Homo sapiens: one gene and its partners. The protein of the gene in region 1 interacts with the protein of each later gene in a pairwise test. Each region holds a gene or a part of one and is shown in the gene's direction. Other genes may lie near its edges. The genes, in order: NBPF19, STAC, TMIE, FAM221A, PHLDA1, FADS2 and P2RX7.

Evidence for each region.
Region 2: the proteins of NBPF19 (region 1) and STAC interact in a two-hybrid assay, tested with the Homo sapiens proteins (one large-scale study listed by BioGRID).
Region 3: the proteins of NBPF19 (region 1) and TMIE interact in a two-hybrid assay, tested with the Homo sapiens proteins (one large-scale study listed by BioGRID).
Region 4: the proteins of NBPF19 (region 1) and FAM221A interact in a two-hybrid assay, tested with the Homo sapiens proteins (one large-scale study listed by BioGRID).
Region 5: the proteins of NBPF19 (region 1) and PHLDA1 interact in a two-hybrid assay, tested with the Homo sapiens proteins (one large-scale study listed by BioGRID).
Region 6: the proteins of NBPF19 (region 1) and FADS2 interact in a two-hybrid assay, tested with the Homo sapiens proteins (one large-scale study listed by BioGRID).
Region 7: the proteins of NBPF19 (region 1) and P2RX7 interact in a two-hybrid assay, tested with the Homo sapiens proteins (one large-scale study listed by BioGRID).

Annotation. Positions count from the first base shown.
Region 1 is NC_000001.11:149,478,045-149,481,544, forward strand, and holds part of NBPF19 (NBPF family member NBPF19), read left to right. Parts: coding exon 1-3; intron 4-835; coding exon 836-1,050; intron 1,051-2,097; coding exon 2,098-2,170; intron 2,171-2,634; coding exon 2,635-2,840; intron 2,841-3,500.
Region 2 is NC_000003.12:36,481,504-36,485,003, forward strand, and holds part of STAC (SH3 and cysteine-rich domain-containing protein), read left to right. Parts: intron 1-1,488; coding exon 1,489-1,589; intron 1,590-3,473; coding exon 3,474-3,500. UniProt on the Homo sapiens protein: Promotes expression of the ion channel CACNA1H at the cell membrane, and thereby contributes to the regulation of channel activity.
Region 3 is NC_000003.12:46,700,041-46,704,191, forward strand, and holds the start of TMIE (transmembrane inner ear expressed protein isoform 1 precursor), read left to right. Parts: upstream 1-1,351; 5' UTR 1,352-1,447; coding exon 1,448-1,540; intron 1,541-4,151. UniProt on the Homo sapiens protein: Auxiliary subunit of the mechanotransducer (MET) non-specific cation channel complex located at the tips of stereocilia of cochlear hair cells and that mediates sensory transduction in the auditory system.
Region 4 is NC_000007.14:23,700,175-23,703,150, forward strand, and holds the end of FAM221A (protein FAM221A), read left to right. Parts: intron 1-611; coding exon 612-694; intron 695-1,921; coding exon 1,922-1,990; 3' UTR 1,991-2,476; downstream 2,477-2,976.
Region 5 is NC_000012.12:76,024,947-76,028,535, reverse strand, and holds the end of PHLDA1 (pleckstrin homology-like domain family A member 1), read left to right. Parts: 3' UTR 1-3,089; downstream 3,090-3,589. UniProt on the Homo sapiens protein: Seems to be involved in regulation of apoptosis. May be involved in detachment-mediated programmed cell death. May mediate apoptosis during neuronal development. May be involved in regulation of anti-apoptotic effects of IGF1.
Region 6 is NC_000011.10:61,862,800-61,866,299, forward strand, and holds part of FADS2 (acyl-CoA 6-desaturase), read left to right. Parts: intron 1-172; coding exon 173-270; intron 271-482; coding exon 483-579; intron 580-907; coding exon 908-987; intron 988-2,352; coding exon 2,353-2,478; intron 2,479-2,838; coding exon 2,839-2,890; 3' UTR 2,891-3,500. UniProt on the Homo sapiens protein: Involved in the biosynthesis of highly unsaturated fatty acids (HUFA) from the essential polyunsaturated fatty acids (PUFA) linoleic acid (LA) (18:2n-6) and alpha-linolenic acid (ALA) (18:3n-3) precursors, acting as a fatty acyl-coenzyme A (CoA) desaturase that introduces a cis double bond at carbon 6 of the fatty acyl chain.
Region 7 is NC_000012.12:121,131,605-121,135,675, forward strand, and holds the start of P2RX7 (P2X purinoceptor 7), read left to right. Parts: upstream 1-1,271; 5' UTR 1,272-1,366; coding exon 1,367-1,491; intron 1,492-4,071. UniProt on the Homo sapiens protein: ATP-gated nonselective transmembrane cation channel that requires high millimolar concentrations of ATP for activation. Upon ATP binding, it rapidly opens to allow the influx of small cations Na(+) and Ca(2+), and the K(+) efflux.

The DNA of each region.
Region 1 (3,500 bases):
CAGGTGAGGGGACCCCGTGGGGGGAGGGCAGGCGGGTAGGTGTGTAGATCTCTGAAGTACAGCAGCTCGGCGGGGAGAAATAAGAACGAAGCTGGGCCAGGGGAAGGGCAGAAATTGCCATGACAGGCTCATGACACACAAATATTTATCAGTGAACAAGGATAATAATAAGTTCTGTGTTGCAGTTGTTTCTTAGAGCCTTGTTTTCTCTTTTTCAAACAAGTAATTGTTGAGGTGAAATTTACATAACACAAAATTCACCAAAGGAGTGGGAACCACCCAGCAGCATTCAGTATAATCAAAATGGTGTGCTATCACCACCCCACTTACCCTTAGTGAGAATCACCTCCTGACTGACTGCGTCTTCTCATTCTTTCACTCAATCAATGTTGCCTTCTTGACCCTGTCCTTCTTTTCTTCTTTCATCTTTTCAATTCGCCCCATCTGCACCTGGCCTCATTTCTGTACATGGCTTTGTATTTAGTGGCCGCAAGATGCACTATGTGTATTTTCACATGGAAATGTCCATGGCCAGAGTGAGGAACTGAAAGGATGTCTTTTTGAAACGGAATTAGGAAGACACCTACTTTTGTTTACAGAAGAGAAAGATGAATGGAACATCATCGAGGATCTTGCAGGAGCCCTCTCTGATAGAGGGAAAGCCTGTAGACCATTTTCTATTCTTCCTCTTGGCCACAGTCATTCCTTTCAACATGTGCTGACCTTCTGCTTGGAGGTCTCCTTGAGGACATTGTCTCAGAAGTCTCTGTTGCAATATTTGAACGGATCACTCAACCCTTTCTACTCTTAAATTTTCTCTACCGTCTCACCTTAGGCAATATAAAGTCCTGTTTCACTCTCAGGAACGAGAGCTGACCCAGTTAAGGGAGAAGTTACGGGAAGGGAGAGATGCCTCCCGCTCATTGAATGAGCATCTCCAGGCCCTCCTCACTCCGGATGAGCCGGACAAGTCCCAGGGGCAGGACCTCCAAGAACAGCTGGCTGAGGGGTGTAGACTGGCACAGCACCTTGTCCAAAAGCTCAGCCCAGGTAAGGTGGCCATAGGCCCTGATGACCCAAAACCCCAGGCTTATGAGAGGCTCCAGACCTCCATACTTTCACAATGACAGTTATATCAGTGGGGTTTTTTTCTACTACACCTATGTGGCCATGACATGATCAGGACTTCCTGGGTAAGAACAGAGATGGGAAACCCATGGGTTTGGAGGTCACAGTATTGCAAGTGTCCCTCCTTCCTTGATGGAAGGTGGTCTTTGGAGCAAGAGGCAGCATCTATCTAGTTTTAAAGGACAGGAAGGAGGCTGTGATGGAAGGGCGCTTGTTGGAGTGAAAAGAGCTCTGGGCTAAGAATGAAGGTTCCCAGGCTGTATTTTTGGCAGTGTTCTTAGTAAGTGTCAGTGAGTGATTTATCTTTTCAGAGTTTCTCTCTCTCCATCTGCAAAGGCAGACAAATTGTCTCTTGCAAGGGTCTGAAGCATCCAAATATGGGAACACTTACGAATGCTTTTCAAAATGAGATGAAGCCCCTCTCCATGTGGTGTTGGAGAAGGCACTTGATGTGGGGGCATTTGGTGGTAGGAAGTGCTTCAGACTGGAGCACTCCCCATGGATAGAATGTCCCTGAATAACACAGCAGAAGCCACATGGAGGGCCTGTGCAGTCTCATGACGCATAGAGGACTGTGGGACAAGTTTGTCCTCTCCTAAGAGAAAGAATGAGGTTTGAAATGCAAACCGTGACAGGACACCAAGCCTGTGCCTGGGAATCAGATCTGGCAGGATGGGGGAGACAGCTGCCAACGTCCAGAGAGAGGCTGCACAAGCCTCCAGTGATATGGGAAGCAAAAGGTCTTTTCAATATTTGGCCACATCTTGATGGTGGCCCTCCAGATCAGAAATGCATTGCCTGATGGATCAGGAAACCATGGCAGGGCATTCTGTTAAAGATAAAACATGAGAGTTTTCAGTTGAACGGTGACCCATGCCTAGATGTTCATGTCTCTGTTGCACATTGGGCTGACTGTGCTTGCAGACTGTGAAGTGGGAAATATCTGAACGAACACTTCTGTATTTACAGAAAATGACAACGATGACGATGAAGATGTTCAAGTTGAGGTGGCTGAGAAAGTGCAGAAATCGTCTGCCCCCAGGTAACACTGAATACTCAGGAACAATTAATGGATGGTAACATATGAGGAATATCTAGGAGGCACACCCTCTCTGGCATCTATGATGGGCCAAAAACCCGCATTCGCTTGGCCACAGTATGTGAAATATAATCCAGCTTAGACACAGGGTGCGGTAGCTGTCATGTTTCTCTATGTGTGCTGAGTGTCATGTCTGCACCTTACAGGGATAGCTGAGTCTTCATCCTCCTCAGCTCCTATCTGTCCAGTGCAATGAACAGCAGCTGCTCTCTTCCTCTCTGGTTCCCATGGCAGCCATGCTCTGTTGCAGAGAGAACAGGATTGCATGTTCCCTCTTAATGGGAACCTCCATTTTGCTTTCTGGGACCACTCTCTTAATGCCGCCTGTCAAAACCAGCTAGGACTCCCTGGGGTCCAATCCCTCTGTGTTTAATCTTCTGTCATCTCTGTCCCACCTGGCTCATCAGGGAGATGCAGAAGGCTGAAGAAAAGGAAGTCCCTGAGGACTCACTGGAGGAATGTGCCATCACTTATTCAAATAGCCATGGCCCTTATGACTCCAACCAGCCACATAGGAAAACCAAAATCACATTTGAGGAAGACAAAGTCGACTCAACTCTCATTGGCTCATCCTCTCATGTTGAATGGGAGGATGCTGTACACATTATTCCAGGTAGCCTCTGTTTTCCTTGTGTCTCATACCTCTCTCTAGGCTGAGAAAGATAAACTCTGAAGACAGGCTCTATAAACACAAATTCATTTGAATAAAAAACTGTGATGGGTTTCTAAACAGATATCAGGGAGTTTTTTTGTCCTTCTCAGCTAATGTCATGACTTTGTCTGCCAGTCCCCAGTATCAAGTTACTCAACCCCAGGCAAGTGTGACAATCTCATAGTCACCTGAGTGCAGGAGGTGCACAGGCAGTATCTGTCAGGCCTCCTATCTTCGATTCAGTATCTCTTGTCATCTGTGATTAAGTCATCTGTCCCTGAACAATGTCCATGGAGTTTCTATGCCTGTTTAAGGAAGCTGGCAGCCTTGCCTTTGTATTTGGAAATATTGTTCCCCAGGCTTCACTGCTCTCAGCTTTCATCTGGATCTCCTTTAAGTCAGCTTGCTTAGCTGCACAGTCACCCTGAAATCAGGACGGAAACTTTTCTTCTTTACTTTGCTGATATATTTCCATAAAGCAAGGCTGGACCCTGGTTCTCCACCCTGTCAATGCAATGGCTGATCCAATGTTTCTTTGTAGCATCGTGGATTTTTTTTTTTTTTTTTTTTTTTTTGCAATGGAGTCTTGCTCTGTCACCCAGGCTGGAGTGCAGTGGCACC
Region 2 (3,500 bases), on another chromosome or scaffold:
CTTTGGGTCTGTGGATGGCTGTGCTGTACAGTGGGGTATCTTGACTTCATGTCTCATACTACCTGGACATATTCATTCCTGTATCTCCCCTCTAAAGAGACTTACTTTGTTGAAATCCTGTTGTCTCTCCAGGTTGTCATCTTGCATAGCATTCTACATAATCCATATCTGATCCATGAGAATCACATACTTGTTGGACTCACCAACCCTTTTCCTAACAATCTTTTGGAGTGCAGGCCTTGTTCACACAGCTGTCTCCTCAGTAGGCTGACAGGACCCCTGGCCACCCACGTCTCTTATTTTTAGTTTTTTCCAAGAATGGGTATGGCCACAGCCATATGTCCCACAGACTCACATAGGTCAAGCTGTTAAAATAGTCTCCTTGAAACCCTCTCAGGACTGAGGAGACAACAGAGCACACCCCATCCTTCTCATCATGGTAAAGGAGGAGGGATAAGACTGATAGTGCCTCAACAACTCTGCAAAGAAATACTCTCTCCACTACCTCACCTTTCTTCCTCTTTTCTAATACATGAGATGCTTGGTCATCTAAGAGTGGCAAAAATACATTTTGGCACCTTTTTGAGACTTGCCTGGGAACCTACCATCTTACTTTGGGATATCAGAGCAGATGGCATTCTCTTGTCTGTGACTAGATGAAGGCAGAACACACCCATTTTAACATCCGTCTTAAGCTTTATCCAGCCACTTTCTGAAATAATGAACACCGGTGTGCAGCACCTGCCATCTTCCTGAAGCCCCCACACCCTGCCCTCTTATTAGGCCTCCCAGTTCCTCTCCAGTGCTCCTGCCTTGGGCCTTTGTGCATGAAGATACCAGGATGGCTCTCTGCCTTTTCTTCTCAGCCTTCTTTCTTCTCACTCCATGATAGCACCCTGTCCCAAGAAGCTAAGTGACTCACCGCAGCCACAATTTCATTATCATTCGCATCTTCTTCCTCTTTCCCCAGGCTGGGGTTGGCATCTGATTGAGTCCTCTCTCCCCTTCTTTAGAAGACTGTCAGCCCCACTCTCACACAGACCTGCCCTTCCCCCTTAATCAGTCATTTTCCTGAGAATTTATCCAACGGCTCAGTTCCTGTGATAGAAATACAGAAGAAAATACATCAAATTTCGGGACTTGCACTACTCAGTAAGACACAGAAAAGTAGAATTGAGTAACCTACATGAAAAGCAAAGAAAATGGAATTCACTAGCTTGAATTGAGAGAACAAAGGGCATGGAGGAGGCTTAGAGTTCCTGGAGTAGTGAATAGGAAAGATGGAGATAAACCAGAGTGTATACCTTAGGTAGAAAATGCAGGAGAAAGCAAAAGAATCTACCATATATATTTTTTTTCTATTTTGAAAGCTTCATGAAAAAGTTGTAGGAAAGAATTACCTGGGGAACCTCATTTTCTGTGATTTTAGACTAATCAGCAGGAAATGGCAGGTTGTATCCTAACCAAAGTTTGCCATGTACCTGACAGGAACAAATGCTAAGCATGGACTGCGCTGCAAAGCCTGTAAGATGAGCATCCACCACAAGTGCACAGATGGCCTGGCACCCCAGCGGTGCATGGGCAAGCTGGTAAGGGCTTGTGCCAGGAGTGAGGCCCACACCTCTCTGCTAGGGCACTTGCCTGCTGCAGTGAGATCACCCCCTCCAAAATCCTTCCCTGAAACCCTGAGCAAAGCACCCCAGAACTGGCTGCCAGCTTGGCTTCCTAATTGGCGTAATCAGAAAACAAGGACAAGGGCTTTGTCAACCCAATCAACAATGCCCCACCTTGAAAGGGAGTCAGGGTCATTAACAGAGTGACCAACTTCTCCCAGGTTGGCACTTTCTCAGTTTTAATACTGAAAGTCCCACATCCTGGGTCTGTTCAGGTTTTAAAAGTGAAAGTCATGCATCTCAGGAACCCCCTAAGTCCCAGGCAAACTAATGGTTGGTCACTCTAGTGCTTCCTTGGTGGTCAGCTCAGTGGGTAGCAAGAGAGGACAAGAGCTAAGCCCCCACAAAAGAGGAGAGAGTAATAAATATCTGCACCACTTTAACAGAATCTCCCAAACCAAGGGAGATTGAATGGCCCTTGAGATGGCTGATCATACCATCTCAGGAGGATGGGCTTCAGTCCTGGTGCCACATATTGATTAAGAGGCAATTCAAGCCAGGCACAATGGCTCACGCCTATAATCCCAACACTTTGGACACCAAGGTGGGTTGATCCCTTAAGCCCAGGAGTTCGAGACCAGCCTGGGCAACATGGCATGACCCTGTCTCTACAAAAATTTAAAAATTAGCTGAGTGTGGTGGTGTGTGCCTGTAGTTCCAGCTACTCAGGAGGCTGAGATTAGAGGATCGCTTGAGCCCAGAAGGCAGAGGTTTCAGTAAGCCATTATTGCGCAACTGTACTCTAGCTTGGGTGACAGTGAGAACCTGTCTCAAAAATTTTTTTTCAAAAAGCAATCCAGAGCGCATTTGAGGGTGTTTGAAACTAGGATGGCCAAAGAATTGTAGAAAGGACGAAGAATGTCTACCCTAGAGAATAATTAGACAGGACATCAACAGCTGTCTTCAACAATTTTAGACCTAAAATTTAGAAGAGTAACTCCATTGTCCTTTGAGGCTCCTGGGGAAAGACCTAAGATCAGTGGATACTAAGTCTTAACAATAAAAGATAATGTCTTGCTTCCAGGGTTAGTGAATGCTCCTTCACCCCCTCCCATCACTGACAGTGTAACGACAAGGGACACCACTTTCCAGGAACATTAGACAGGATTCTGGAATTCTAGAAGGGACTGGGCCACCAAGTTCCCATCCAGTAATGGAGTACAGTCAAGTCCAGGTTCTTAGTTTATCTATTTACTCTGATTTGCAATGTCTCTTTTCTCAAACCTCTGCCTCCCCTGCTTCCCCTTCTCCTTCTCCAGTGGTGATTCCCATAAGCCAAGACAGACCATGAAGGAGAGGTCAGAAAAACAGAGAATAGAATCCAGATTACAGAGCAAATGATTCTGGCTAAAGCTCTTCAGATATACAGGAGCTTTTAGGCCTCCCTCTGAGGTCCACTTACCCATGCCCAGGCCTTTTATTTATATTATTTTAACAAACCACAATAACAAACTGTGGTGAAATAATATGTGGCAGTCCACTTGTAATCCAGGAGGCAATGAGGATCTGGGATGCAAAGGAGGCTGCAGTGCACTGCAGGAGGAGGACAGACACGACTGGGGAGGCCAGGGCCAGGACCTTGTTTTCTGGATAGAGTGTAACTTGCTAGTTGCCACTATTCCTCCCTGCCTCTGTGTCCCTGCTGGGATTAAATTGTGGAATTATAGGATAAGTCGGCATGTTAATGGGAGACAGGAGGGTGCTCCTGGAGAAACCAATTGGTTTTATTTAGGGAGCTCTTGTATGGTTTTCTCCATCTCCAGTGACATTAACCCCTTGCCTTCCTCATTCTCTCTCCAGCCAAAGGGGTTTCGGCGTTACTACAGC
Region 3 (4,151 bases), on another chromosome or scaffold:
AGCCTGGCCTGTGACCAGCAGCATGAGGAAGTGGGGATTGGAGTGCTGCAACAAGTGATTTGGATTTTAGCAGAGTTCCTGTTTGCCTGGCCAGGGCATGCCTGGGGAGGACTGGGTGGCCCAGCCCACTCAGTCCCCAGACTTTACCTCCCACTGTTGAGCGTTTCCTCGATGGGTCTCCTGGGCTGCAGTCCTTCTCCAACAGCTCTCGTTTTCCTGCCTGGCTGTCATCTCCGGGCCCTGACACTGGCAGGTGACCGCAGGTGGCCCTCCGCTCCCTGCTGCAGCCTGCTGTGGTCCTTGCCCATTCATGGCATGTCCAGGCCAGAACCTCACAGGGCTCTGGAGCCACAGGGTCTCCCTGGTTCTCAGGGCAGGCCTTGCTGGGCCATCCCCAGCCTGCGCAGGCCTTCACCAGTGCCCCTGGTGATAAGGGTTCCAGGGGCCCAACACCTGGGCTGCTTCTCCTAACACTCAGCAGCAGGAGATAAATAAGAATAGAAGGAAGGAAGAAAAGGAGGGAAGGGGAGTCTACCAACTCCAGGCCTCCCCACTCCTCTTCCTAAGTCTTCAGCCCCCACCCAGGTCTCTACATCTCCTCAGAACCTCCCTCTGTCCCTCAGTTGTCAAGGCTCAACATGGGGTCAGGGCCAGAGTGCAGTGTGGGTCAACTTCAGCATGAGGTCAGGGTCCTGGCTTAGACTGAAGTCAGAGTCAGTGTTCAGGCTGGGGCAGAGATTGAGGGCAGCCAGGGTCAGAAAATGGTCCTCCAGCCCTTCCAGGGACAGCCCACTTCTGTCCTGTGGGGCTGAAGATGCTGGCTTCTTCTGGAACCCTCCATAACACTGCCGGCTGGCAGCTCTGACCATACCATCCCCTGCTCTCCAGCTCTGGTGTCCAGGGTGACCAGAGCCGCCTCTGGGCAGGAAGCCAAGCCAGAAAGCCCAGGACATCCCTGAGCGCCTGTCACCATGGCAACCTGCCCGCTCTGCCCCCCCCCCAAACTCAAATCCAGTATATTTTTCAAATCCAGCATGACAGAATGGGAAGGGCCTCCTAGATCAGCAGATTCCAGTCCCACCCCCTTGTCCCAGATGGAGAAACTGAGGCCCATTTGCAGAAGGGAGGGGGACCTGTTGATTAGGGACCTGGCCCCAGCCTGTCCTCCCTCCCGCCCACCCCCACCTCAGTGTCCCTGGGGATGCGGAAGGTGGGGGCAGGGAGGGGGAGCCTGCGGCCCGATCTCCCGGGAAGGAGGGGGCGGGCCCTCCACCGCAGCGATGGCGGGGGCGGGCGGCGCGGGAACCTGACACCGAGGATGAATAAATGATGCTCGCTGACTACCCGTGGCCAAAGCCCGTGGCCACCGAGCGCCGGCTGGCAGGGGCAGTGACCGGCGGCCGGCCCGTTCGTCCCTGGGCTCCGCAAGCGGCGCGGTGGCACGAAGATGGCGGGGTGGCCGGGCGCGGGTCCCCTCTGCGTGCTGGGCGGCGCCGCACTCGGGGTGTGCCTCGCGGGGGTTGCCGGGCAGCTGGTGGAGGTGAGGCCGCGGCACGGAGGGACTGGGGAGGCTGTCACCCTCCAGGCAGGGGGCTGGGGGAGAGGGGACGCCTTTTTGATCCGGAGCTTGTTTGATCCCTTACTCTTGCCCTGAGAGATCCAGTCTCCCGGGCGATGCAGCCCTGCCCCAAGCCCTGCCAGGCTGTGAGAGAGACTCAGCCCCACTCTTAGGGTCCCTGGTCTGATGGAAGGGCACAGTACCCGATTTCTGGAACATTAGTCTGACGGGGGAGACTCACCTTGACCTTAGGGATTCCCAGCCTGACTTGGGGACACAGCCCTGCCCAGACTGATGGGGGATACTGGGCCCCCATCCTCCAGCCTTTGGTCTCACTGGCAGGGAGGTGCACAGCCCTGGGTTTCCTGGACCTCTAGTCTGATGGAACAGACCCTGAATTTAGGGTCTTCTGGAGGCAACAGCCTCTATCTCCAGAGATGTTCCAGGGACCCCTGTCTAATGGAGGGGGAGACATAGCCTTAAGATGGAGACGAGGGCATTCCAAGTTGGAGGGTGGGGGCAGCAGGATGAGGAGACCCTTTACAGAGAAGCTATGTGGAGCACTAGGTCCAGAGGGGCAGGCAGGGCAGGACCTAGGGACTGGGAAGTCTGACTTGGTCCTGGTGATAACCGGGAGCTTTAGAAGGTTTCTGCTCAGGGACAAGTCATGATGAGTTCTGGTTTGGAAGGAGGGTAAATTGGGAGCAGGCACACAGTGGGAGAGGTGGGAGGAGCTGCTGAGATAGCACAGAAGCTGGGGGAGAGCCCTGGTGGAGAGCCTGGCTGGGGCCAGGAAGGGTGGGGCCATCTGTAGCCTCCCTAACCCCCTTGTACCCCACTCCTGCGGAGCCTGAAAGGGGAGCCAACGAGGGAGCTGGCAGACCAGACCTAGAGTTCTGAATTGTGAGGCCAGAGGGAGAAGGCCCAGGAGCCAGGGCCAGGGAGGAGCAGGGGATGGAGGCTGTGCAGGCAGGGGCGGACCAGAGGGAGCAGGAAAACAGAAATGCAAGAGGCAGTGAGAGGTGCCCAGGGAAGTCCTGAGGGGTGGGGGCTTGGGGACAGTGTGGGATAGAGAGGACAGAGCCATGGGGAAGTTGTTATGGGGGGACACAGCCCTGAACTGGAGGGTTTGATGGGGACATAGGGACAGAGCCCTGGACCCAGATGTAGCCTGTCCCTGCTGTTGCCCAGAGGGCATGACCACAAGGCTGGGCTAGAGTCAGGTGTCAGCTCCAGTGTCCCTGTAAGGGGAGCTATGCTGGCTTGAGCCCTGTGAGGCGTACTTGGGCCCCTCACAGGCTGCCCTGAGGCCTGGGTACAGAAACTGAGCTGGCCTAGGTGCAGACAGAAAGCTGGGGGTGGGGGTTAAGTCAGTTCTCAGCCAAGGACTCTTCTCCCTCACCCCCAGGAACTCATCTTTTCCCAGTTCTAGGGAAATTGCATTTGGAGGCCATCTGCCTGACATCTGCCTACAGTCTGAGCAAGGCCTTAGCTCTTCCCTCACGGAAGCACCAAAGACATGGGCAGGGCTGGGGGCCATGTCACCACCCACCTTAGCCCTGTGTGGGTCACCATCACCCTCCATCAGCCCGTGAGGCTCTGAAGGAGGTGGGGACCTCCATGCTCCAGAAATCAGACCCCAGCAGGGCCCAACATGAGGAGAAGACCAGCTGTCATCTGCTGCCGTCCACCCAAGACCCCTATCAGTAAGAGTAGGCCCAGCTCCACCCACATCAGGGCTGGGGCAAGAATGTGTAGGAAGTGAGCTGCCTTGGCTCAGAACCTGAGAACTTTGCCATGGCCCTCAGAGTCTTCCAGTCATACAACCAGCCGGGCCAACACATTGAGCCTTAGAATTAGGGCAGCTGCCACCATCAGGGCCCTAACCCTAATGGCACAGACATGTCCCTGACCACACCCACATGCATGCCAACCACACATGTGCCCAACCTCACACATGTTCCCCAACTTTATGTACATGTCTGACCCCACACATATATCCAGGGGAAAGTACTGAGGAATGGTGTCTTCTTGTCAATAGCTCACCCTGGCAGGGAGAAAAGAGCCTGAGAATCAGGTACCAATCCCAGCCCACAGATCCTCTGGGTTACCTGGGACAGGTTGCTGATCCTCTCTTGAGTTCTGCAACCCACGCTGAAGGGTGGCATTCACTAGATGAAGAAGCGCCTGGCTCATGACAGATGCCTAATCCATGTTTACGGACCTGGGGGAAGAAGGGCTGGATGGTCGAACTACAGGTTGCCTTTCTTCTCAGAGAACCAGAAGGGACTTCTCGTGTCTGTCCTTATTTAGTAATCAGTGCACAACATCTCGCTCATATGCCCCAGGGTTCTCTCTCCCTCAGAGGACAGACCCCTCTCCCTGTCCCTCAGCCACACTAAGTGACAGACATGGGGTCATATCCATCTCTGGTCAGGGACAGATCTTACTCAAATTCTACAGTGTGGGTCCATGTCCCTTCAGACCTAGGCAGGACTGTGTCCCCTAGACACCCAGGGTAGAGCTGTGTCCTCTAGACACCCAGGGCAGGACCGTGTCCCCTAGACACCCAGGGTGGACCATGTCCCTAGAC
Region 4 (2,976 bases), on another chromosome or scaffold:
CTGCTTTGGAAATGAAGGGACCCAGTGAAGACCTTCACTCGCAATGAAGGTGTACTTTTCTATGCAATTAGGCTCTTGGCTACCTGCCAAGAAAACCAGATGTTTTCCTACTGAAGCAATTTCAAAAGTTCCTTTCAGCATATAAATTAGTGCTTGATCCATTTGACAAAGTGATTACCGTAAAAAATGGATAAAATAGTTCAGTTTTGAAAGATTTTGAAGCAGGTACTATCATTACTTATGGTTGCCTATACCAAGCCTCAATAATTACTTTTGTGCATTATCTCAAAGTGTAACATGGATTTCTAGTTATAAAATGTAAAAAGTAGTTGGACAAAACTAAGTGTACTCTTATACGGAATAGCTATATGGTGCTATTTAATATGAACTGTGGAATATTTGGAGAATGTTTGCTAGTGAAAAACACTTTTGTCCTGTGATGCCATTCTCTCTAAAAGAGAATGAGGTAGTAGGACCAATTATTCATTTAGGCCATTTTTGGTTTGAAAAATAAAACATTATCACCGAGCAGGAGAAAACTTTTCTTTCTTTTATTTCAGGGGAATATGTAATGATATAAATACATTACTTAGATTTTTTTTCCTTGTTAGTAGGTACAAGTAGTCAAGTTTCTTCATTAAGGAGACCTGAAGAGGATGATATGGCTTTCTTTGAAAGACGATACCAGGAAAGGGTAGGTTTTTGAGGAAATTCAGTTGCACTAAGCATTTACTTGTAGCAAAAGCACTAGAATGATTATACATTGAATGTGGAACATCCTTGAAAATAATTTATAAAGTCTTTACTTACAGTTGGTGTTAGGCCTTGAGGCTTATTAGAATACACAGAAACAGGGCTAAAGAATAACATGATATTTAATACACTGGTTGATTTATGAAGGCCATAAAGATTGGATAAATACGCAGATAAAATTGTCAGTAATAAACATCAATATCAGCAGATTTGTAAATTATATGTATCTTGAATTCTTTTTTTATACATGTACCTTTATTTTTTATTTAAAAATATTTGCCAAATAAAGATTGAATATATTTTGAATTCTCTTTTTTTTTTTTTTTTTTTGAGACGGAGTCTTGGTCTGTCGCCCAGGCTGGAGTGCAGTGGCGCGATCTCGGCTCACTGCAAGCTCCGCCTCCCGGGTTCACGCCATTCTCCTGCTTCAGCCTCCCGAGTAGCTGGGACCACAGGCGCCCACCACCATGCCCAGCTAATTTTTTGTATTTTTAGTAGAGACGGGGTTTCACTGTGTTAGCCAGGATGGTCTGGATCTCCTGACCTCGTGATCCACCCGCCTCGGCCTCGCAAAGTGCTGGGATTACAGGCATGAGCCACCGCGCCTGGTGCCTATTTTGAATTCTTAATATGTATTATTTATTCTTCTTAGAGGCTTTTAGGTGTATCCAGACTCGTTAAAATTACCCAATACACATCTGGGCACAGTGGCTGCTTTTTTGCTTTAACTACAATGGAGGAGGAAAAGACTTTCAGAAAGGTAACTGTGGGAATATAGAAACCAGAATTATAGAAAACTATCCTTAAAGCAGTCCACGTTCCAGAGAGAATCCAGCTGGATTAGGTGCATTATGTAACTCTGTAGGGAATGTGCATAGGCTGGATGTAAGTTTAGTCATTTTAAGCACTTGTAATTTTAGTGGCAATTGAAATTGTTTTCTCTAAAGCAATATTCATATATTACTTTTATTAAAATGCTTCTGTAAAATTAAAATAAAACCATCTGAAAATGTGTAATTATGTCCCTTTAACAGATTTTGGCTTTAGTATTTAGCAGCTTAATAACTGTGGAATGGCTGTGACATGAATCTGAATGAGTTTTCTGCAAGTTTTTTTTCTTTAGAATGGTTTACAAGTTATTATATCAATAAATATGTTAAATTTACAGATGAAAATGGAAAAGGCTGCTAAGTGGAAAGGAAAAGCTCCATTGCCATCAGCTACAAAACCTTCATGAAGACTATTGGAGAAATTAAAACCATCATCCAAGTATCTTTTTCATGTTTATTTAAATGTAATAATACAGTTTATTTTTCCTGAAATTATTTACTTTTTTTTTTTACTGTATAAATGTCTTTTGGGATGTTTCCTTAATTTATTTAAATAACTAAAAATGCCTATTACTTTTGTCAAAACTCATAATTTACTACTTTGTATGTACCTTTCTTTCTCCTGACAAATGAGGTTATTTTATATGAGTCTGTCTGAGAGTACAGTAAATGTTTTTAGTACATAATAATTTAACTGTTTCAGGTATTTAAAAAATTAAAGATATTATCAAGGGTTTTGGACAAACATATGAGCCATTTTTTTGTCATTCAAAATAGTAAGTTAAAAACAAGAGAACAAAAGAAAAAAATAGTTAAAATCATTAATTTTTTTATTTTTCAAACTTTGTAATGTTATGTTTTCAAATAAAAACTATCTCAAAATTTTACAACCATTTTCTAGTGATATTACTGATTTTTTTTTTCAATCTTTCTCAGGCTGAAGATATCTACTGATTTTTACGTTGTGTTGTCAACCACCCATTGTCTATGACTGTACTGGACACATCTTGTGTGCCACTGCAAATCCTCTTGGCCCCGTTTCTTACTCCATTACTGCTGTGGAACACTTTCCAGCAGGCTTCTGATAGCGGAAGCCATTTGATGGCACCTTGTCTTGGGCGCATGTCATGGCTCTCTTGCTTCCTTCTGCAGGGATCTTCTGACACTGTGGCTTGGGATGCCCACTAGAACCCCACTGTATGATACATATGCAGCCCAAAGATGTTGGGGAGCTAGTGACTTTGGGGCCACTCTTGATTAATGGGAGGTGGAAGCCCAATACATAAGTGCTCTCCCGTCTGTTGGGAAGACAATTCTGAAATGCATTTCATAAACTTCCTCAGAAAGTCCTATCGTTGAGCTCCAGTCACCCATAGCAGTGGCCAACTCAATA
Region 5 (3,589 bases), on another chromosome or scaffold:
TAGAATTACATGCTACAGATGTCTTTATTCTCCTTCCATCTAGAAAGGAGTTCCAAGGTCAAATTACTTTTTAGTGCAATAGTTAAATGACATTTTGAGATCATAACTCATATCCAAAAAGTTGCAGGGAAAATTAAAATAGCTTTCCCCTATTAAGCTAATGGCAAACAAAACTTAAGTGGACCCCCACTTCCAGTGGTTGTTTAGGTTGCAGTTGTGAAAATATGCTGCCAACATTTAAAAACTTGTTTCATATGTATATATGTATACACATATATGAATATGTATGTATATATACATATATGAGAACATGTGTGTACACATATATGAATATGTATATATGTGTATGTATGTATATATGTATATGAAATGAGAGCCACATCTAAAGATTTCTTAAATCAAGTTTGGTTCAGCTTCCTTAGAACTGTGGCTGTACTTTTTGAGGAGTACCTCATAGTACTATATTTTTAATGCATGCAAATCATAATAGCTCCAAATGAACCACAGTTTTTTCCCAATGGAGGATTTTTTTTTAATTCTTGTACTAAAAAAAAAAAATCCATACCAAATATTTTTACAAATTAAGATTGATGTAGGTTTTAAAAAAGGCATTTGTATGTTGTTAGCTTACATATGGGGCTAGGTAATTTCATTGCTTAAAAAGATGCGCCTAGGCTCCCTCTTGGTGGCTGGATTTCTTTTTCTTCGCCCGTGGTGGCCATGGTTCTTAATAGGGCCACCGGAATCATGGTTTCTTTTTTTTTTTTTTTTTTTGAGATGGAGTCTCGCCCTGTGACCCAGGCTGGAGTGCAGTGGCACGATCTCGGCTCACTGCAACCTCTGCCTCCTGGGTTCACGCCATTCTCCTGTCTCAGCCTCCTGAGTAGCTGGGACTACAGGTGAATGCCACCACGCCCGGCTGATTTTTGTATTTTTAGTAGAGATGGGGTTTCACCATAGTGGTCAGGCTGTTCTCGAACTCCTGACCTCAGGTGATCCACCTGCCTTGGCCTCCCAAAGTGCTAGGATTACAGGTGTGAGCCACCACACCCGGCCCCAGAATAATGGTTTCTTGACTTTCTGTAGCCCTTGTTCCTTAGTCTGCTGTGATATTTATGTTGACCTTTATCATTTTCTATTCTGAACCCCTCTTAGCATTTAATGTGAAATCTAAGAAATTAGAAGTAGAATGGCTTTTATTGTTTTGACACCTTTGAAATTATTATTAATAATTTTTCCAGAGCAAAAAAGCAAACACGCTCAATAAGACTAAACAAAACAAAATATAAATGTACATCATTTAATGTCCCAGTGGCTCTATTCTACCTGTAAGAAAATGATACAAAACCACCTAAGATATTTTGAAGCCTGACAAATCAGCTTCATGGAAAAAGGTAAAAAATGCATTTTTCAACCGAAAGGGCAGATCCAATAGAAGACCCGCTCCTTAAATAAACATAAAATGTAAAAAGTTGGAAAATTAAGAGTAATGTTCCATCTGGAAACTGAACTTTTGTCCTTGAACTTGTGTTGGCACCAAGCCTCATACACAGTGAGCTCAATAACTGTTGGGACAAAGGAAGGAAGGACAAAATGTGTAACTTCCCAGCATCTGGGAGATGCTGTCTCTTGCCTCACTGAGTGTTCCTTTTCTTTGCTCTCATGTCATTCCCTGAGAACAATGAATTCTGGGACAGGCTAAACATCATGATGAAGTTTCTTAAACAGACTTTCTTAGTGGAAATCCATTTAGATCTGGGTGTGCTCTATGGGGAGTGCTGACGTCAAAGAGCAAATGTCTATAAGGGGCCCTTTTAAAATGAACATTTTCCTCATTGAGCAAGCTGGGATTCTCTAATGTAGAAATCAAGCCATCTTTATAATTTCACTTCAGATGTTTATGTTTTTGTTTTTTTTGTCTCCAATGATGGTAAAAATAAAAACTACGCATTACTTAAAGGAGTTTCCCTCACATGTAAACACTGTTAGGAAGTCTGGATTAAGTTGAAAGTCCTGTTTTAACTTTTTTTCTCTCATATACCAAACACTCTGTATTTCTCTTAAAGAAGCCCTTTAAGAGAAAGCCCTAATTTTATATCTGACAGTAAAGTTTGCTGCAAGTGTATGAGTTCAAACACATCCCTTGTTTTCTGTCCCTAGGGGAAAAGTCATGTAGTTTTAGCTTGGCTCCAGTGTTAATATTATATTCAGTAGCAGCCTTAGAAGAGTGGTCTAAGACTTGAACCTGGAGCAATTTTATAGCACAGAATCCTACGAAGATAGGACTGTGAACATTTGTTTTCTTTTTCGTGTGTGTCAAACTAACTGGTTTTTGCTTTACCAATAAAATGTCCTCGGCAGAGTAAATTTTAAACGTGAAAATTATAGATCTTGATATTGAATCCATCAGTGATTCAAGAGATACACCTATTTGCCTAAAACAACCTAAGATGTATTGGTTATGGAATCATGTGTTGGATAGGTTCTTAAGACCTGTTTCCTCAAATCTTGACACAGTTTTCAAGGGTGGCTTATTGACTTGCACGGTTGGGCAGATAATCCAGATTTACCTAAGATTGGGTAAAAAAGTCATCTGTGACTTTGCTGGCAGGGCATTTGCTAAGTGGAGTACAGGATCTAAAAGGGTTTTCTTAGAAAGGGCAATATTGTCCAATGAAGTAAGCAGAAGGACTCTGGGTTAGAAGCATCTGCACAAAAACTGGTGAGACCTACTCTCCACTGCTCTGCAGCTGGATGGCTGATGGCAGGCTGAGCAGTGGGGAAGCAGGTTTTAACAACAGGGAGTCCTTCCAGGTCACTGTATATTGAGAAGAAACATAAAACTATTGTCTGTTACATTCCGAGGTCAGCCTTCTTCTTAACGTTTTATAATATGCAAATGCCAGCTTCTGGAAAGCAAGTATCATCATGTACCAAATGCTTTATACACCATCACATTCATGAATTTTTTAGCATGGTCAGAACTTGTGTAAATATGTCTCTTAGATGATTTTGGGGAGATGTGATTTATTTTTCATATTTTCAAAATGCATTTCATTTCAAATAAAGTTATCTATTGAGACAACCGACCTGTGGACCTTTTGAAGGCCTTGTTCAACTGGCACATGCATTGTGTGTTCCTGTGAAACAGAGATTCTGAATTGCTTGGGCATTCTGGGAAAAAAAAAGACCATTTTTGAGGTTGGGAATTCATCTTTTAAAAAATTCACTGGGAATTTGGAATATGAAAATTCGCTCAGGTATGTTGGTGAAAAAATTAGCTTTCAGAATGCTAATGAACTTTAATTGAATTTTCCATAGTTTCCCAGAGGACCAGAAACAGTTCCTAGTGAATCAGCTCAACAGCAATACCCTCTTGAGTCCCAGAGGTAGTCTAGTTCTCTTATGTCTCTTGGGAGGGTAAAGCTTTGTCTCTGAGTCATCCTTCAAACGGTATTCATAGACCTTCCTATTTTGTGTTGAAAGCAGAAGAGGGACTTGATTCTTTAAAGAAAAATAGCATAACTTTATTCTTACAATCTCCACTGGCATCTAAAAGCCTTTAAATCTCAAAAGACTTTAAAATAGG
Region 6 (3,500 bases), on another chromosome or scaffold:
AGCCATGCAAACCCCGAGCAAGCAGGTGGCGTGTAGTTGCCCATTGCATTTCAGTGGGCTGCGGTCCAGCTTCTAGAGGCCTGAGTGTGAGGTGTGTGCACATCTGGGGCACGCACTTGGTGCCAGGGCAGAGGAGAGGGCAGGTTGCACCTAACTTCATCTTTCCCCGCAGGACCTGGCCTGGGCCGTCAGCTACTACATCCGGTTCTTCATCACCTACATCCCTTTCTACGGCATCCTGGGAGCCCTCCTTTTCCTCAACTTCATCAGGTGCCTGGGCTTTGCTGATTCATCCCTGGGCCCTCCACTGGCACTGATGATGGCTTTGGCATGAGAAGAGGCTCGGACGGCTCCACTTTGCCTGGGGACCTCCCATCCTGGCCCCTTGGCAGGGGCTGTCCTGGGCTGGTTGGGAGAGTGGATCTGTTCCCACTGTGGCTGGGCCCCCGGAGGCCCCTGCGCTGAGCTGTGTTCTCTTGCAGGTTCCTGGAGAGCCACTGGTTTGTGTGGGTCACACAGATGAATCACATCGTCATGGAGATTGACCAGGAGGCCTACCGTGACTGGTTCAGTAGCCAGGTAGGGAAGTCAGGGCCGGTCACCAGAGCCTGGTCCCAATGTCCATGTCCTGGCCCCAGATGATCTGCACCTGCTAACACAGGGCTGTGCTGGGCCTCCCGGGGCTGCCTGTGTCCTTTTGCTGGGAGCTTCAGGGCTGAGCAAGAAAGGGCAGCAGGAATCCCCCAGAGGGACAGGTGGGGCATCTGGGTGGGCTGAGGCCATCAGGCAGGACGGTATGATGTGGACGGGTGGCCTGGAGACCCTGGGTAAGGCTGGGCCCCCTGGGAATGAGGCCGGGCCCTTGGGCCTTCCTTTGTTCCCTGACACTCATCCCCTCCACTGACAGCTGACAGCCACCTGCAACGTGGAGCAGTCCTTCTTCAACGACTGGTTCAGTGGACACCTTAACTTCCAGATTGAGCACCAGTGAGCGCGGGGCTGCGGGGAGGCGGGGAGACCCACAGCGGGAGGGAAGTGGCCGCTATCCCACTGGGCAGAATGCAGAATGTGGGGGCCACCTCTTTGTCTCTCTGACAAGGTCTCTGCCCAATATAGAGCAAGGCTCCCAGCCAGCCCCGCTGAGGTCAGGAGAGGGGCTCCCCTATTCCATCTCCCTGAGGGTCATCCTGTGCCCCTCATGCTGTGCCACTTGGTCATAGTGGTTACCACCTCCCTCCATGTGGGCCTGGGACTTTGTAGTTATGGAGCCTGCACACGCACCTCATGACCCTGTGAGGCTAGCAGGGCAGGGCTACGTAGCTTGCCTGGAACATCGGCCGAGGGACTGCCCTGCTGCCCCTTGTCCTTGCTTCACCTCTTGTCACTGTTTTTTTTTTTTTTTATTAAAAAATAAAAAATGTAGAGACAGAGTCTCACCCTGTTTCCTGGGCTGGAGTGCAGTGGTGCTTTCTTGGCTCACTGCAGCCTCGAACGCCTGAGCTAAAGTCATCCTCCCACCTCAGCCTCCTGAGTAGCTGGGACTGCAGGTGCGTGCCACCATGCCCAACTAATTTTTTCTTTTTTTTTTTACTTTTATTTATTTATTTATTTTGAGACAGAATCTCACTCTGTTGCCCAGACTGGAGGGCAGTGGCGCAATCTCGGCTCACTGCATCCTCCACCTACCAGGTTCAAGCAATTCTCAGGCCTCAGCCTCCCACGTAGCTGGGATTACAGGCGTGTGCCACCACGCCCAGCTAATTTTTGTATTTTTTAGTGGAGACGGGGTTTCACCATGTTGGCCAGGCTGGTCTCAAACTCCTAGCCTCAAGTGATCCACCTGCGTTGGCCTCCCAAAGTGCTGGGATTACAGGTGTGAGCCACTGCACCTGGCCTAATTTTTTATTTTTATTTTTTGTAGAGAAGAGGTCTTGCCGTGTCGCCCAGGCTGATCTCAAACTTCTGGCCTCAAGTGATCTGCCTGCCTCGGCCTCCCAAAATGCTGGGATTACAGGCGTGAGCCACCGTGCCTCACCTCACTGCCTCTTTTCCTAGCATTCCCCAGCTATTTCATTTCTTTTTTGAAAAACATGACACTTTGTCTCTGGCCACCCAATATCTTCCCAGCTCCATAGAGCACAAACGCCCTCCTGCTCACGGAGGGCTGCACCCTCCCCTCCACACACGTGGCACCCCACTGGGCACACACGAGGAGCCACACTTTGAGACTGGTCCTGGCTGTGGACAGGGTCTCTGAGGGCCCCAGCCAGCCTCTGCCCAGGTGGTGGGAGGAAGCGGGAGCAGCATGGCCCTCTGAGTCCTCACGCTCTGCCCACCCTACACACTCCTCAGCCTCTTCCCCACCATGCCCCGGCACAACTTACACAAGATCGCCCCGCTGGTGAAGTCTCTATGTGCCAAGCATGGCATTGAATACCAGGAGAAGCCGCTACTGAGGGCCCTGCTGGACATCATCAGGTGAGGGGTGGAGGTCCACAGGCGCTGGGCCCTGGGATCACCCGTGGTGCAGACAGTGGGATCACAAGAGGGGCTGGGCCCTCCTGGCACAGTCACCCACCAGGGCACCTGCCTTACTCCCGAGCCTGTGTTAGGAGCTGTTGGGCTTTTCTCCCTGGGCTGCGAGAAGACCATCCCTTTCTGTGTGGGGTTCCTGGTGGGCTCTGAGCTGACAGCCCCACAGGCCCAGTGGCAGTGGTAAGCCCTGGTTAGGGCCAAGGGGACATACATGCCACCTTAATGATGGCCTCCTCAGCCCTTGCACTCCCTGGGGCCACTCCCGTCCTGGTCCCTGACCCTGGTCCATCCCCAACTTTGCAGGTCCCTGAAGAAGTCTGGGAAGCTGTGGCTGGACGCCTACCTTCACAAATGAAGCCACAGCCCCCGGGACACCGTGGGGAAGGGGTGCAGGTGGGGTGATGGCCAGAGGAATGATGGGCTTTTGTTCTGAGGGGTGTCCGAGAGGCTGGTGTATGCACTGCTCACGGACCCCATGTTGGATCTTTCTCCCTTTCTCCTCTCCTTTTTCTCTTCACATCTCCCCCATAGCACCCTGCCCTCATGGGACCTGCCCTCCCTCAGCCGTCAGCCATCAGCCATGGCCCTCCCAGTGCCTCCTAGCCCCTTCTTCCAAGGAGCAGAGAGGTGGCCACCGGGGGTGGCTCTGTCCTACCTCCACTCTCTGCCCCTAAAGATGGGAGGAGACCAGCGGTCCATGGGTCTGGCCTGTGAGTCTCCCCTTGCAGCCTGGTCACTAGGCATCACCCCCGCTTTGGTTCTTCAGATGCTCTTGGGGTTCATAGGGGCAGGTCCTAGTCGGGCAGGGCCCCTGACCCTCCCGGCCTGGCTTCACTCTCCCTGACGGCTGCCATTGGTCCACCCTTTCATAGAGAGGCCTGCTTTGTTACAAAGCTCGGGTCTCCCTCCTGCAGCTCGGTTAAGTACCCGAGGCCTCTCTTAAGATGTCCAGGGCCCCAGGCCCG
Region 7 (4,071 bases), on another chromosome or scaffold:
AACCCTGATGCAGTTTGTATGTGTGAGAAAGTACAATTAGTTTAGACTGAAAAACTGAAAATCTACCCGGCCACTTAGCAGGCTGGAATAACAGAAAGGGATCAAGCCAGCTGTAAAGATAACAGGGAACAATAATTCTCTGTAGCTGTAAAGTGATAATACAACCCTGCATCTTTGAGTGACTGCTGAAACATTGTCCTTTAAAATCAGAGACCTTCAGAAACTTTGCTGTTTGAAATTACATGACTAAGACTGAAATATTCCAATTTTGCCTGGAAGATTTAAGTCATCTTGACACAGAGAAGCAGCCTCAATTTACAACTCAGGAGCAGAGCTTCAGATAAAGATTTTCTGGACACATTTGACATGTATCTTAGCTATGTTGCTTCCTAGGAAACAGGGCCCTGGGTCCTCTTTGCAATCCAGACTGAAGTTGACTGCTTTGTACAAACCTGTTTTGCTTTGAGTCCATCAAAACATGACTTCATTTAGATTTTATCTCAACTCCACTTTCCTCGGAATCCTATAATAAATTGCTGTTTTCCTTTGTTTGGTGATGTGCGTAGCTCTTCTGGTGGGTGGTGTCCCTCACTGAATAGGTCAACAAACCTAACTTTGTTGGACTGCCACTGTGTCCCTGGTGATCTTTGGCTGATTGGTCTAGGTCATAGATCGACCTGCCGGGGTGCAGAGGAGGGTGGAGAGTAACTCAGAGGGTCAAGCATGAAAGATCTGGCAGAAAAATAAAGCCCCTCCACCCCCACCACCCCTACCCCTGCAAATCTGATTTCCCCCACCAACTGCAGACCAGAGTATTATAAGGGGCGGTGGAAGAAGAGGGGGAGATCTTCATTTACCCAGAGCTCCTATACATCAGGGGCTGAATAAAGGGTTGTAGAAATGAATGAATCAATCTCTGAGTGGGGCTTCAGGCAATGGAAAGATCTCAGTCCTTTTCTGAGGCATAATGGAAGCTCCCAGTCTTGTGACATTTGCAAGGCTGCCCCTTTCTCCCAAGAGACATGAGACCAAAAAAGTGAAAGGAAAGGGGGGAAAAGGGAGAATTCTAAAAATGCCCATCCTCTGAACACCATCTTTGTGTAGGCATCTGGGGGAGGCCAGCTGGGGTGAGGTCATCTGCCAGCCAGGCCCGTAGGACTTGGCGCTTCTTGTTTATCACAGCCACATGTGGGGCCACTGCCAGGGCCCGCCCCAACTCTGCAGTCATTGGAGGAGCTTGAAGTTAAAGACTCCTGCTAAAAACCAGTACGTTTCATTTTGCAGTTACTGGGAGGGGGCTTGCTGTGGCCCTGTCAGGAAGAGTAGAGCTCTGGTCCAGCTCCGCGCAGGGAGGGAGGCTGTCACCATGCCGGCCTGCTGCAGCTGCAGTGATGTTTTCCAGTATGAGACGAACAAAGTCACTCGGATCCAGAGCATGAATTATGGCACCATTAAGTGGTTCTTCCACGTGATCATCTTTTCCTACGTTTGGTAAGTGGGATCTGGGGAGGACCCAGATCTCTGCAGTGGCCGACAGCACAGAAAGCCCCAGCGGGCAGCTTCAGGTGCACATTCTGAATCTCACATGGTTTTCGAATCTGAGACGTGCTCTCACAGCCAGCTGGGCGGGAGGGAGGAAGCAGCAGCAGGCAAGAGGAAACGGTGCCAGGCTGCAGCAGAGAGAAGCCACAGGACAAGCGGGATTCCTTTCTGCTCTACTTCAGGCCCGCCAGGGCGCGCAGGGCAGGGCGTGCCTGGGGAAGGTAGGAAAGCGCAGGGCAACACCCTGGATCCCCAGGGAGGAGGCGAGGATCTCAGGGCACGCCTGGTGATCATGCTGGCATCTGAGTCACCATGCTTGGGAGGAATAGGACCAGGCTTGAAAATGTGTTATAACTTTAGGTCCTCACCAACGTCAGGAAGGCCCTGCTTTTTGGTTTTTGTTTCTTCTAAAAGAAACTTACTGAGATATAATTTATACACCATACAATTGACCCATTTAAAGGGTACCATTTAATGATTTTCAGATTATTCCCAGAGTTGTGCAACCATCCCCACAATCAATTTTAGAATATTTTAATCGACTCAAAAGGAATCCCACACTCCTTCACCATCATTTCCAACACTGTTCCTCCTCCTTCCCACCCATCAATTTCCTTTCTGCCTCTATGGATTTGCCGATTCTGGACATTTCATATAAATGGAATCACATAATATGTGGTCCTTTGTGGCACTTAGCGTGTTTTCAATGCTCATCCATGTTGTAGCATGTGTTGATACTTCATTCAATTTTTTTTTTTAAAGAGACGGGGTCTCACTATTTTGTCCAGGCTGGTCTCAAACTCCTGGACTCAAGTGATCTGCCTGCCTCGGCCTCCCAAAGTGTCAGGATTACAGGCGTGAGCCATTGCACCCGGCTGATACTTCATTCCTTTTTACGGCTGAGTAGTACTCCATTGCATGGATAGACCACTTTTTTCTATCCATTCATCCATTGATGGACATTGGGGTTGTTTCTCTTTTTTGGCTATCATGAATAATGCCACATGAACATTTGTGTACAAGGTTTTATGTGGATATATATTCTCCTTTCTCTCGAATATGTACCTAAGAGTAAAAATTGCTAGGTCATATGTTAACTATGTTTCACCTTTGGGGGGAATGTGGAGCTGAATTTCACAGCAGCTGCAGTTTTTTACATTCCTATCAGCAGAGTATGAGGGATCCAATTTCTCCACATCCTCACCAACGCTTGTTATCGTCTGTCTTTTTGGGTTTTGTTGTTGTCATTTTGTTTTTGTCTTTGAGATGAAGTCTTGCTCTGTTGCCCAGGCTGGAGTGCAGTGGCGCAATCTTGGCTCACTGCAACCTCCACCTCCCCGGTTCAAGCGATTCTCCTGCCTCAGCCTCATGAGTAGCTGGGATTACAGGTGTGCGTCACCACTCCTCACTAATTTTTGTATTTTTAGTAGAGATGAGGTTTCGCCATGTAGGCCAGGCTGGTCTCAAACTCCTGACCTCAAGTGATCCGCCCACCTTGGCCTCCCAAAGTGCTGGGATTACAGGCATGAGCCGCCACGCCCGGCTGATTGTCTGTCTTTTTTATTATAGCCATGCTAGTGGGTGTGAAGTGGTAGTTCATTGTGGTTGTGATTTGAATTTCCCTGATGGTGAGTGCCTCTTATTCTCTGTGCTGATTGATAATGATGATGAAGGCAATTTGTATCTATAGAGTGGCAGTGTAGTTTACTAAGAGTTAGGGTAACTTATTTCATAGTACTGGCTATGTCTTCTGGGCCAAGTCATTAACTTCTCTGAGCCTCAGTTTCTGCATCTGTTCATAGGGTTGTGGCAATTAACCAAAAAAAAAAGGCATGAACAGCCCTTATCATGATGACTGACATAGGATAAGAGCTCCATAACTAGTATCTATTTTTAAAAATAATCTTTTTAAGTCTGGGAGTGGTGGCTCACACCTGTAATCCCAACACTTTGGGAGGCCAAGGCGGGTGGATCACGAAGTCAGGAGTTTGAGACCAGCCTGGCCAATATGGTGAAACCCCATCTCTACTAAAAATACAAAAATTAGTGGGGAGTGGTGGTGCACACCTGTAATCCCAGCTACTAGGGAGGCTGAGGCAGGAGAATCGCTTGAACCCGGAGGCGGAGGTTGCAGTGAGCCAAGATCAAGCCACTGCACTCCAGCCTGGGTGACAGAGCAAGACTCCATCTCAAAATAATAATAATAGTAATAATTTTTTTGATTATATAATAGTATATATGTATATAAAATACATGTATGTATTTTTATCTATATCCTCTGCTCTGACCCTCAAAGTAACCACGTCCAAGTTCAGGATTTGAAATCTGGAAACGTGGATTCAAAAATCCTTCACCTCTTTGAGCCTTGGTTTCATCATCTGTAAAATGGGGAGAATTGTTGATAGGAATATTAAATGAACTAATAAATGCAAAGCTGTTTGAGAAATATATGGCATATAGTAATCCCTGATTAAGTGTTAGTTCTTATTATTAATAATGCTATTATTAGGATTATTATTATTCGATTCA